Regions from separate parts of the Homo sapiens genome. Here all the other regions are linked to region 3. Evidence: fine-mapped expression QTL. A gene starts in region 3. Each other region holds a variant in brackets. All regions are shown on one strand. Distances are between the middles of the regions. Region 1 has its middle 180 kb from the start of RAMP3. Region 2 overlaps ADCY1 (adenylate cyclase 1). Region 3 holds the start of ADCY1 (adenylate cyclase 1).

The links. PIP is the estimated chance that this variant, and not a neighbour inherited with it, causes the effect. A credible set is the group of variants that fine-mapping cannot tell apart.
Region 1: its variant is the best candidate, but not a certain one, in a credible set for the expression of ADCY1 in aorta (GTEx, PIP 0.57).
Region 2: its variant is the best candidate, but not a certain one, in a credible set for the expression of ADCY1 in lung (TOPMed, PIP 0.63).

What each region holds. Positions count from the first base shown.
Region 1 is chr7:45,338,661-45,342,899 of GRCh38, forward strand. No RefSeq gene overlaps it. Among named protein-coding and RNA genes, the nearest start is that of RAMP3, 180 kb to the left of the region's middle. The variant A/C (reference allele first, on the strand shown) is at 1,793.
Region 2 is chr7:45,686,929-45,691,167 of GRCh38, forward strand. All of the region lies in intron 14 of ADCY1 (adenylate cyclase 1), which reads left to right. Among named protein-coding and RNA genes, the nearest start is that of ADCY1, 110 kb to the left of the region's middle. The variant T/C (reference allele first, on the strand shown) is at 2,506.
Region 3 is chr7:45,572,268-45,576,506 of GRCh38, forward strand. ADCY1 (adenylate cyclase 1) reads left to right here and starts at 2,101. Exons shown (of 20, transcript NM_021116.4): 1 at 2,101-2,915. The coding sequence starts at 2,277. RefSeq lists an enhancer at 1,115-1,675 and a silencer at 2,487-2,586.

The DNA of each region.
Region 1 (4,239 bases), 230 kb before region 3:
CATAAAAAAGAATGTATTCATGTCCTTTGCAGGGACATGGATGAAGCTGGAAACCATCATGCTCAGCAAACTAACACAGGAACAGAAAACCAAACACCGCATATTCTCACTCATAAGTGGGAGTTGAACAATGAGAACACGTGGACACAGGGAGGGGAACATCACACACCGGGGGCTGTGGGCGGCGGGGGGGCAAGGGGAGGGAGAGCATTAGGACAAATACCTAATGCATGCAGGGCTTAAAACCTAGATGACAGGTTGATAGGTGCAGCAAACCACCATGGCACATGTATGCCTATGTAACAAACCTGCACGTTCAGCACATGTATCCCGGAACTTAAAGTAAAAAAAAAAAAAAAGTAAAAAAAAAAAAAAAAAGATATGTAAATGTCAAATAAGCTCATGAAAAGATGCATTCAAGAAATGCAAATTAAAACCAAATGAGACACCAGTAAACACCTATTAGAATGTCTGTAGTTAAAGGACTGAACATACCAGTTAATGATGAGTATGTGAAAAAACTGGGACTCTCATGCATTGCCACATCAATGTAAAATATTGCAACCACTCTGGGGAGCAGTTTACCAGTTGCATAAAAAGTTAAACATACAACTACCATATGACCTTGCCATTTCACTCTAAGGTTTTTACCAAGGCACAATGAAACTGTATGATCATACAAATCCTTGCACAAAAATATTCTTAGCAGTTTTATTTTTAATAGCCCAAACCTGAAACAACCACACATCCATTAACAGGTGAGTATATAAACAAATTGTGGCACATTTATTACAATGGAATAATACTCATCCATAAAAGCAATAAATTAATGATAGATGCAAAAGCATAGATGAATCTCAAAAACATTATGTTGAGTGAAAAATGATTAATGATATAATGCAAAAAAATGTTTTTCAGTTCTGAAAGACATAAGTCACCATTAATGAACAATAAACAAACAAACAAAAAAAGTTAAATACAGATAATTACCAGAGCTTGAAAATAAGCATTCCCACAATTACAACAAGAAAAAGTTGGACAAACTGAAATCTGTGACTTTTCTTGAACCCATCATATAACTGAGTTAACAGGATAAACTACCACCTTAAAATCCAGACAGACAGGTACATCCAGAGAAATACAAGATCAAAGATTGCTTACTTGGAACAGAAGCTCCCAAAATGTATAATCTGGTGGCAACATTTAAATGGTCATTTTCATAGAGTTGGGAGGCTGAATACAGAGTTGGTGAGTAAGGAGCCCTAAGGGTCTAAGACAGATGGAGATATCCACATGTACATGGGCTTTAGCTCAGTAACCTCACCAGATTCTCATTGTGAAGATATGAGAAATATCCTTCTTGGACCTGGAAGGACTCAATGTCAGTAGACTTATCCTATAAGAAATGTTAAAAGAACTTTGGGCCAAAGAGAAATAATATGCCAGAAACTTCGGTCCATACCAAAAAGGAAGAACATCAGAAAAGGAATAAATAAAGGTAAAATAAAATATTTTAGTTTTCTTATTTTTAATGGACATAAAATAACTTCGTTTAAATTAATAATAGGAAAAATCTAATGGAAGGTCATAGCATATAGATAAGAGAAATGAATGAGCACAGTATCACAAAAGATGGAAGAAAGATCCCAGATGTGGTGTAAAGTTACTGGAGGTGGAAGTAAATTATTTAAAAATGCACATCGTAACACCTGCAGCAACCACTAAAAAGTTTTAAATGGAAGTTTAAATGATATGCCAAAGAAGAGATAAAGTGGAATAATATAAAATATTC[A/C]ATTGAAGCAAGAAAAGATAGAAAAAAGGGAAGAAGAAGAGAAACAAACAAAAAAAGAAACGAGAAAAAAGCCATTATAAAGATTGTATATTTTAGCCCAACTATACCAAAAAATACTTGAAATGTGAATGGTGTAAATACAGCAGTTAAAAGACAGATTTTATTGAATTGGAATATTAAGACTCAGATAGGTATGCTATCCTAAAAGTAATCAAAAGAAAGCTCGATTACCTATATTAATTTCAGACAAAGCAGACTACAGAACAGGAATATCATCAGGGATAAAGAGTGACATTACACAAACAGGAAGACAATTCTCCAAGAAGACCTAAATGTTTATGCACCTAACAACACAGCATCAAAATACATAAGACAAAGGTGATAGAACTGAAAGGAGAAATCATATTTTAGTTGGAGACCTCAATATCTCTATACCAGTAGGTGATATAGCAAGCACACAGAAAATCAGTGCGGGCATTGTGGAACATAACAGCATCATTGATCAACTGGTTCTAATTGACATCTATAGACGACTTCATCCAACAACAGCAGAATACATATTCTCCTCAAGCTCACATGGAACATTCACCAAGACAGATCCCACTCTGGGCAATAAAACACACCTTAACATATTTCAAGGGATAGATATCATACAAAGTATATTTTCAGATTGCAGACAAACTGAACTAGAATAACAGAAAACTAGTTGAAAAATGTCCAAATATTTGGTAGTTCGACAACACACCTTTAAAACCCATGGGTCAAAACAGAAGTCTCAAAATAAATTAAAATGTATTTTTTTTGTAATATTTTTATCTAGTTTTGGCATTTGGTATTAGCGTAGTGCTGCCCTTATAAATGAGTTGGCAAATGTTTCTGAATCTCTTTTGGGGAAGAGATTTCTGGAAAATTCAATGAAATTTGAATTTTGTGGGGTGCAACTAAAGTGACTGGTATAAATCTATAGCATTAAGCTGCATATATTGGAAATGAAAAAGATCCAAAATCAATAATCTAAACTTCCACCTTAGGAAACTAGAGTAAGAAGAGCAAATTAGACCTAAAGCAAGCAGGAGAAAGGAAATTATAATTATTAGACCATAAATAAACAAAATTGAGAACAGGAAAACAATAAATAAAATCAAAAGTTGGCTTTTTGCAAAGATCAATAAAATTGACAAATCTCTAGCTAAGCTAACCAAGAAAAAATGAGGGAAGACACAAGTTGTCAATATAAGGAATGAAAACGATATGTATCAGCACTACTGATCCTGTGGGTCTTAAAAGGGTAATAAAGGAATACGATGAACAACTCAGTCCCCGTGTATTTGGTAACTAAACGACATAAAGCAATTTCTTGAAAGACACAAACTACCAAAATTCACTCAAGGATAAATAGATAACCTTAAGTTCAATTTATCTATTCAACACAGTCCCATTAAAAATCCCAGCAACCTTTTTTGTACATATCAAATAACTGATTCTAAAATTTATGTGGAGAGGCGAGAGACCTAGAATTCCACCGTAATTGTAAATAAGAAGAATAAAGTTGGAAGATATTCATCTTACTCAATTTTAAGACTTATTATAAAGTAACAGTAATCAATACTATTTGGTATTGGAGGAAAAATAGACACATTGATCAATGAAAGAGAATAGAGAACAGCAATACAGACTTGCAATGGGGTTACTTCCTGATAAACCCATCATAAGTTGAAAATATTGTAAGTTGAAAATGTATTGAATACACCTAACTTATTCAACATCATAGGTTAGCCTAGCCTAGTTTACCATAAACGTGTTCAGAACACTTACTTTAGCCCACAGTAGGGCAAAATCATCAGTACTCTGATGATCAGTACTCAAAAACACAGGACTCTGCAGAGTGTCACTTGTTTACCCTCATGACTGCATGGCTGACTGGGAGCTGTTGTTTGCTGTCGCTGCCCAGCATCACAAGAGAGTGTGGCACAGTGTATTGCTAGCCCAGGAAAAGATCAAAATTCGAAACTGAAAGTATGGTTTCTACTGAACGTGTATAGCTTTCACGTCATCATAAAGTAAATAAATCCTAAGTCCAGCCATTTTAAGTTGTCTGTAGTGTGATACAAATCTAGTGAAGTGATTTTTTCACAAAGGCAGAAAGGCAATTCAATGAAGACAGGATCATCTTTTCAACAGGTGGTGCTGGAACAATTGAGCATCCATGTGCCCACTCCCCACAAAAGAGAGCCAAGACACAGACCTTACACCTTACACAAAAATGAACTCAAAAGAGACCAAAAATCTAAATGTAAAACACAAAATCATAAAAATTCTAGAATAAAACATATAAGAAAATCTGCATGACCTGAAGTTTGGTGGTAATTTTATAAACATAATGCCATAAGCACAATTCCTGGGGGAAAATTTTAATAATTGAGCTTTCTTAAAATAGAAAACTTTTG
Region 2 (4,239 bases), 110 kb after region 3:
TGGTCAGAGCGTGGCTCTTTCACGAGGCAGTGAGTCCCCCTTCACTGAACAGCATGTGCAGTGGTGGTGCAGAGGGGCTCAGCCTCTGCAGGGCTGGGCAGTGGCAGCAGGTCTCATCGGGGTCATTGGGAAATACAAGAAAATGCCAAAACTCTCACCACCTACTCCAAATTGAGTAGGTCAGCAGGTGGGGGCTGGACGTCTATATTTTTACATGTACCCTGGGAAATTCTGACACAAGAGGCATAAGCACCACTCTTTGGGAGACTCCATGGAGTAGCAAACATGTGAACTGGCTTCAGGCCCCAAACATCTGGGTACCAGGCTGGAGAGGAGACATGCTTTCCTGAAGTCTGTAGGTGGCTTTCTGTTTGGATGTGATCCTGGCAATGACTGCCAGATATTCACCTTGAGTTCCTGCTGCGGAGCCACAGCAGGGGTGTACCTGTGTCCACCCCATGGCCAGGGGCCAAGGCAGCGTGTGGGTGCTGGTGTGAGCATCTTCACACCAACTCCATACTCCACAGCCCTCCGGGAGGTGAGGCAATCAAACATTTAGGACCAGGCTACCTGGGTTCAAATCCCATTTGTGGAATTTGCAAACTGTTTCACCCTGGGAAAATTGCTCCTCCTAGGTTTCCTCCCCTGAAAACCGGGAATGAAGGCTGATGAATATTAGCTTTAGCAAGAGATAGTCTTCTTATTTTGACACCTTAAGAATAGCTCTTCGCTGTTGGAGCTATTTGATCTCATTCAGTCTTCAGAACAGCACTGCCTAGGAGCTGGGATTACAGACAAGAACACAGGGGCCACTAAAGTAACATGCCAGAGTCGGGCAGCCAGAAGGTGGCTGAGCTGGGATCCAGCTGCCATCTGTGTGATCTTTGGGTAGGCTCTGAACCTGTGGAGAGAGCTGTGTCTGGGGCCAGGCAGGACAAGAGCATTTTCACCCTAGTCCTACTCTGCAGTCAGGACTGAAGGCAGGTGCAGCCCAGAGTTGGGGCACAGACACCAGACAGGCACAGCCCAGAGGGTGCCCAGGAGGAAGCGTGGCCAGGACCAGCTGAGAGCTCACTGTGGAAGCAGGACCAGGCTTGCTGCTGGAGTTGGGAAGCCTGTCAATTTTTTGTCTTTGTTCCTGAGGCTGACTGGGCATCAAGCCATGCAGTTAAGTGACCGAAACCCTGGTCAGCAGTAGCAGGGGTAACAAAGGTTGGGCCTGGCATCAGGTGGTCCTCGTCCTGAATTCCAGCAACTCCATGTAGGGTCTGCATGACTTCAACCAGTGATAGGTCAATCTGTCTTTCTGCTTCAGCAGTAAAATGGGGTGAGAACCCTAATCCAGGTGTGCAAGAAATAACTGAAATTCTATTCCTGATGTCGTTGGCCACGGGCCTTGTGCAAAGTAGGTGCTCGGTAAGGCTGAGCAGCCCTTTGTCTGGCAGCCTGTTACTCTGTGATGAGCCATTTTTGGGGGGATCTCTTTCTGGGAGGGAGGGTTAGAGTAGGGTGAAGGGTAGGTGTGAGGAGCATCTGGAGGCAAGTTATCACTCATGAAAAAAATGAACACAATTGTTTCCTCTAGTTTTATTCATCTGGAAAAGACAGAAGCAGCTCAGTGGGTTTATGTCAGCATGACAGGGCAGGATGCATATTTAAAGTGATGGAAATTATGTTGTTGATTTGAGTAAGCAAAAGAAAGAACATATACATACATCACACACACACACTGTCTATATGTGTATCTATATACATGTGCTCACAAATGCTTGGTGAAAAACATGGCTTATTTTTTCCTTCACTGTATAATAGCTTTATTGAGATATATTTCACATAACACAATTCACTTGTTTAGTGAACAGTGGTTTTCAGTATACTCACAGTCCTGTAACGATTACTATAATCAATATTAGAATATTTTTATCTCCCTCAAGAGAAACCCATCCCCATCAGTTAACACTCCCCATTTCTCCTCAACCCCCAAACCCTAGGCAACTACCAGTCTACCCGCTGTCTGTAGATTTTCCCATTTCATTTATTTTTCAGCCTGTGTATTAAGTTAGTGCCTGTTCTGGGCAGAAGACATTCCTGTGTCCTACTAGATGGAGCTCTGAGCTAGCCTTGTAGGTGGGGAAGATCCAGATTCCTGAGGGACTCATGATCTGGCGCTGTCTTCACTGCATACCTGAATTCCAGGTTCTGGAGTGGGCAGGGGTTGCTGAGAACCCTCGCCCTTTGGCCTCTCCCGGGGAAGTGCTGCTGTGTGGTGCGCTCACTGTCAGCAGGGCTGTCTGGGCAGAACAGGCCCTAATTCCTGCTGGGGAGTGGGAGGGGACCCTGGTGGGGGCATAAATACATCTGCATTAAGCTGTTCTTGCACTGCTATAAAGGAATATCAGAGACTGGGTTATTTATAAAGAAAAGAGGTTTAATTGGCTCACAGTTCTACAGGCTGTACCAACAGGCACCAGCATCTGCTTGGCTTCTGGGAAGGGCTCAGGGAGC[T/C]TTTACTCATAGCAGAAGGCAAAACATGAACATACATGTCACATGGCGAGAGCAGGAGCAAGGGGGTGGGGGGAAGGTGCCACACACTTTAAAACAACTGGATCTTGCGAGAACTCTGACTATCGCGAGAAAGGATAGCACCAAGCCATGAGGTATCCACCTGCTTGACCCACACACCTTCCACCAGACCCCATCTCCAACACTAGGATTACATTTCAGCATGAGATTTGGCAGGGACAGATACCCAAACCATATCAACATCTGAGTCTGACTTATCACCAGAGGAATGCAGGCTGTGGCAGGAAGTGAGTCCTCACGCCAGAAGGCCTGACTGCGGCCACAGTGGGTTTGAGAGGAAGCAAAGCCAGGCATACTGTGTTTCTCTGGGCCTTGTGCGATGCTTCAGATTCGGTTATGGAAGGATGAGGGATGGGGTTGAGGGGAAAGGGACGAGGAACATGGCAGAAAGAGGGAATTCTTCAGCAAAAACTGTGAGAGGAGTCAGAGTCCAATCACAGGGGCCAGTGCTCCCTCCAGGCCCCCTGTGGGCAGTGGAGCTGCAAAGGGAGGGCGATAGGACCCGATCCCTGTCTCCAAAGGTGGTCTGACAATGGAGTGTGACACACAGCCCAGGAGGCAGGTGGGAGCCCTGTGATCCACAGGGGCCCTGAGGAAAGCAAGTTGCATGGTCAGGGGCTGGCAGGAGGGCACCTCGGAAGTGGTCGTGTGGAGTCTGGCCACTGTTGGCCATCAAGTGAGGGTGCAGTAGTGGAGGTAGAGTGGGTCTCCAGGGGGCTGTGCATGTATCACAGCCTGGGCTGAGAGCGGAGGGCACACTCTAAGGGGGTGAGTTCAGGAGCCCTTATGATGCTTGGACTATTTGAAAGACAGGGGCAGGCACAGGGCATCTCCAGGCTGGTGTGGCACTTGGGGCAGCCACAGTGGGAATGGGCCCTAGAACCAGGGAACAGAGAGGGCTGCCTGATAGGATTCACCACCTTCAGCCGGGAGACGCAGCCAGTCCGCAGCAACCATGCAAAGAGGAACTGGGAATGCTCTCCTCCCTCGCTACTGGCCCCTGCTCCCGCTCCCCATTGGCCAAACCTGGCCGGAAGTAGGAGGCCCAGGACCCTGTTGGTAGAGTCCTTGGACTGGCCTCCCTGGTACAGAACCGGTGGGGAATGGACTGCAGATACAGCACATACCTGCCCTGGAAGGGAGATCTGGCCAGATACAGCACATACCTGCCCTGGAAGGGAGATCTGGCCAGCTGCAGTTTGCTAAAGCCACACCAGGTAATAGGAAAAGAGCCTCTTTATGATGGGCTGTGTTGCTGAACTTGGTCTTAGTTTGGCTCTGGCTGGCTATCCAGGGTGATCCAGCTGGCTGGTCTGGGAGGATATGTTGACCCAGCCATCAGCTGGCCTCTCTGGGTTCAGATCTTTTTGTTGCAAAAACCTACTCAGAGCTTGAGAAGAATGGACTTGGGATGAGCTAGAAAAACTGGAACAGCCCAGGCCCATGAGATCTGGGGTTTCCAGGTTATTTACTAGGGTGCCTGGTTGGTTCCTCATTCTCAGACAGCAGATTTGGGCCTTGGCTATGACTCTTCCAGTTGAGGGACACTTCTGGGAGAGACATTTCCTCTCATCTGGGTTGACATGGCTTTTTCTTGGCTTTGTTGTTCTTTGAAATGTTATTAAATGCAGTATTTGACCCTGCCATGTCGTTCTC
Region 3 (4,239 bases):
CTCAAGTGATCCCCCTGCCTTGGCCTCCCAAAGTGCGGAGATTACAGGCATGAGCCACTGCACCTGTCTGAATGTCATTTTTTGAGTGAGGACAAAGTTGAGAGCCAAAACAGGTAAAAGAAGGTGCCATTTATTTGTAAACTTTGCACCCAGATTAACTTTATCATACTTTTTCATTTTCATGTAGTTTGATCCTTTTTGGATATTATTCAGCTTTTCTTTAATAAATTGTTAGGATCCAAAAATATACCACACCAGTTAACAAGAAAATCTTCACTTCAATCTTAACACTTGAAAAGAAAAATCTTGCAGACTTTGCTCCTATTTGGGGATAAGCAGGGGACTAGTGGATAGAAGAAGGTGCTTTCTCAAGTCAGTGACAGAGGTTGGGCCATGCCATCTTTTCAGAGCCAGTGCTGCCCTCTGAGGGCTTCAGCTCAAAGAGGGGAGGAAGGCAAATGAACAGAAAATGAGGCTACAGAGTGGTGGGTATGAATTTTCACGGAAGACTGGGACTGGGGAGAAAGCAACGAGCTGTGCCAGAAGGAGCCAGAAAGGTTTCAGAAAGGATGTTCTGTTGGGGATGCTATTCCAGGAGGAGGGACCAGCTGTCATCAAGTGTCTGCTGGGGGCCTTTGGTGTGAGCTACTGGGGACATGGGATGGGAAAGTGCCCCTACTCTAGACAAAGCCTAGAGGTGTCATCATCTGCAACTATTAAGTTGAAGCATATGAAAGAGCTGACATGTGACAACTTTGGCCCTTTTACAAAAACGGCAATTTTGTATGGTTCAACCTGATACCAATTCCAGATAAAATGGAAATGCCTCAAATTCTAACCTTTGTTCCGTATAACAACACGTGGAATCCCTGAGAGTTAATGGAATCCCTGGGGCATTTCTAAAATAGACCAATGCCTGGGCGAGATCCCTTAAATCCTGGTTTCTGGGAGTGGGGCCTTCTGCAGGGGGCCTAGCCTCCTGGTCTCCATTATTTCATGGGATCCCAGTTCCTGGTCTATCCATATTGAGGGGACGAGAAGCAGCCGGGATAACGGAGGAGGCAGGGGTTCTTGCAGTGGCTACTCCTCTCTAGGCCTCCTGGAGGGAGCTGATCATGAGAGATCCTCACTGTAAGGGGGATGCAGGCAGCCCAGGGGCCGTCTGAGCACCAAATGACATCATGTACTTGAAGCACCAGCACAAAGTTGTCTCCCTCATAGTGAATGAATGTAAGCAGTGGAATTCGACTCGCGGGTTTTAACCCCCATGGGCCAGCGTCCTTCCCTCCCAATTGTCCTGCTAGAAGAAAACGTTTCGCTCTCTCTCGGGTATCCAGCTAATCGTTAAGGCAAACAGCAGCGCCCCTTTTCCTTTCATCTCTTGCCCCATTTCTGCACCTACAGCCTCACACCTTCTTCCCGGGACACAGCACTGCCAGGAGCCCATCCTGGTTCAGTTCAGTACCCAGGAGGAATCCCTCGGGCCGACTCCCAGGACTTTGTTTCTTGGACTTCACCACCGCCGCCTCCCCAGCACAGCTCCCGCAGCCCGCACCCGCCCACAGGGTCTCCGCGACCCTAGAGCTTAGGGAAGAATTGCCGAGGGGCGGGGGGTCCCTCATGCGCATGGAAGGGACGTACGCCCCAGGCCTCCACCTTCCTCCTGACCCCGGGGATTCTTGGACGTCGATTCTCCGTCTCGTAGGGGCGAGGGCCCTGGGTTCGCAGTCAGACGCGGGCCCCTCTCAAATCTAGTGGCCTGGTTTTATTGAGTGGGGGAAGGCACATATTTTCCAAGATTAACTGCCCCGCAACAGGGAATTTCGCAGGATTTCAGTATTTTCGACTCCCCAGGTGACGCCAAGAGGGTGGGTTCCACTGTGCACGGTGGGGAAACTGAGGCTCGGAGGGGACAAGGAAGGTACTCGAGGTCACGCGGCTCCTCCGGCGGGCGGGAACGCAGGACGCGGAGTTGGGGCGCGGGCTGTGCGCGCCCAGGTTCGCGGCTCCCGGGGCTCGGCTGTCGCAGCGCGGTCGCCGCCGAGGACCACGGTCGGGGCGCGGGCGGGCTCCAGTGCGCAGGCGCGGCGGGCGGGAGGGGACGCGCTCCGGGCGCGCGCGCGGGGCAGCCGGCGCCCCAACTCCGCCCGCCCCGCGCCCCGCGCCCCGGCGCCTCGCCGCCCGCCGCCCGCCCGCCCCGGCGCCGCCGCCCGCGCCCCGGCGCCCCGGGCCGGCGAGGGGCGCGCCCGCGGCCGCGGCCGCTGCATGGCGCTGAGATGGCGGGGGCGCCGCGCGGCGGAGGCGGCGGCGGAGGCGGCGCGGGCGAGCCCGGGGGCGCCGAGCGGGCGGCCGGGACAAGCCGCCGGCGCGGGCTCCGGGCGTGCGACGAGGAGTTCGCTTGCCCAGAGCTGGAGGCGCTGTTCCGCGGCTACACGCTGCGGCTGGAGCAGGCGGCCACGCTGAAGGCGCTGGCCGTTCTCAGCCTGCTGGCGGGCGCGCTGGCGCTGGCCGAGCTGCTGGGCGCGCCGGGGCCCGCGCCCGGCCTGGCCAAGGGCTCACACCCGGTGCACTGCGTCCTCTTCCTGGCGCTGCTCGTGGTAACCAACGTCCGGTCCCTGCAGGTGCCCCAGCTGCAGCAGGTCGGCCAGCTGGCGCTGCTCTTCAGCCTCACCTTCGCGCTGCTCTGCTGTCCTTTCGCGCTGGGCGGCCCCGCCCGGGGTTCCGCCGGGGCCGCTGGGGGGCCAGCGACCGCCGAACAAGGGGTTTGGCAGCTCCTTTTGGTCACCTTCGTGTCCTATGCCTTGCTGCCCGTGCGCAGCCTGCTGGCCATAGGCTTTGGGCTCGTGGTGGCTGCGTCGCACTTGCTGGTCACAGCCACCTTGGTCCCCGCCAAGCGCCCACGTCTCTGGAGGACGGTAAGTGCAGCCGCGCACCCCTCATCTGGTCTCGGACACACTTGCTGGGACGATGCTGGGAATGCCCGGAGTCGGGCGCGCTTTTTCCTATGCGGCGGGTGGGGACACTGAGGCTCCGAGTGGGGGTGTGTTCAAGGTCACTCCTACGAGTTGGGGACGCAGTCGGGGCTGGCACCCTCCGGCCAGGGCTCTCTTCAGAGTTACAATCCACGAAGCGCCCCTGGCGTGAAGTGTGGAGAGGGGAGACAGGTGTGGAGAGAGAAAGGTTTGGCCAAGGTCAGGGAGCTGATGAGCGGCCAGACGGCGGCCAGAGGGGTCCGCCGGTCTTTTGCCGCACCCATCCCCACAGAGGGACTGAAAGTGGGCGAGGAGAGCAGACCCCCAGGGCAAGCTCCAAGGCCGGCTCTGCGCGCAGCGCTGGGCTCTTCCCCTGCGCACCTAGAGCGCGTGCTGGGCTCGCCTCCCAACCCTGCGGACCCGAGGGTGGTATATGGGTGGTGGGAAAGGACTTCGGCTCTTCCAGCCTTGCTGGCCACCCTTCTGTGGACATGCCTCCGGCCCAGAAAGAGTGGGGTTTGCCAAGGTCAAACACAGTCTAGTCCCTGCCGCTGCCACTCGGCGGTTGCCCTGACCCTGCCTTTTCTGCGCCCGAACTTTGTCACTGTCTTCCCAGTCGGGCGGGCGAGATGGTTGCAAGGACGGGGACGCTGTCTGCCTCCCGCGGACTCTTCCTGGGCCCTGGAGGAGCCTGCTCTTCCAACTGCCCGGAGGTGGACGTGGACCAGAGGTCTTTGCCCCACGGCGGGGCTTTGAGAGCTTCCCCTTGTGCCCATCTCCAACGGGCCGCAGGGATGGGGCTGGGGAGTTGGGGGGTGGGGAGATTTGGAAGACCCTGAGGAGGGTTTTGTTTCTGCCTCTAGCTGCAGTTTAGCAGGGGGATGGTATGACTCAAATGGAGTGGGGGAGCCCATCTCACGAAAGGAAGCAGTGGTGGGAGCAAACTGGGGAGAGGTAAGGGGTCGGAGGGGAAGCTGAATCCAGAGAGATTAGGGAAGAATAACTGGGGGGCGGTGGTAAGGAGTCCCACAGCCCGGCCCCGGGGGACCAGCACCCAAGGATCTAAGGAGGCATCCTTAGACTGTGATGCCAGGGGCAGCACACAGTCAGAGGAGCCATGAGATGCTCAACCTGGCACAGGGATAGACACATCACTGGACTTGTGTCTTAGGGTCAGAGAGAGACCACCATGTGCTCAACCCGTGGGCAGGGGCGGGAGGGAAGAAGGCAGGAGTACATGGAGAATTGTCAAAGAGGGCGTCGGAGG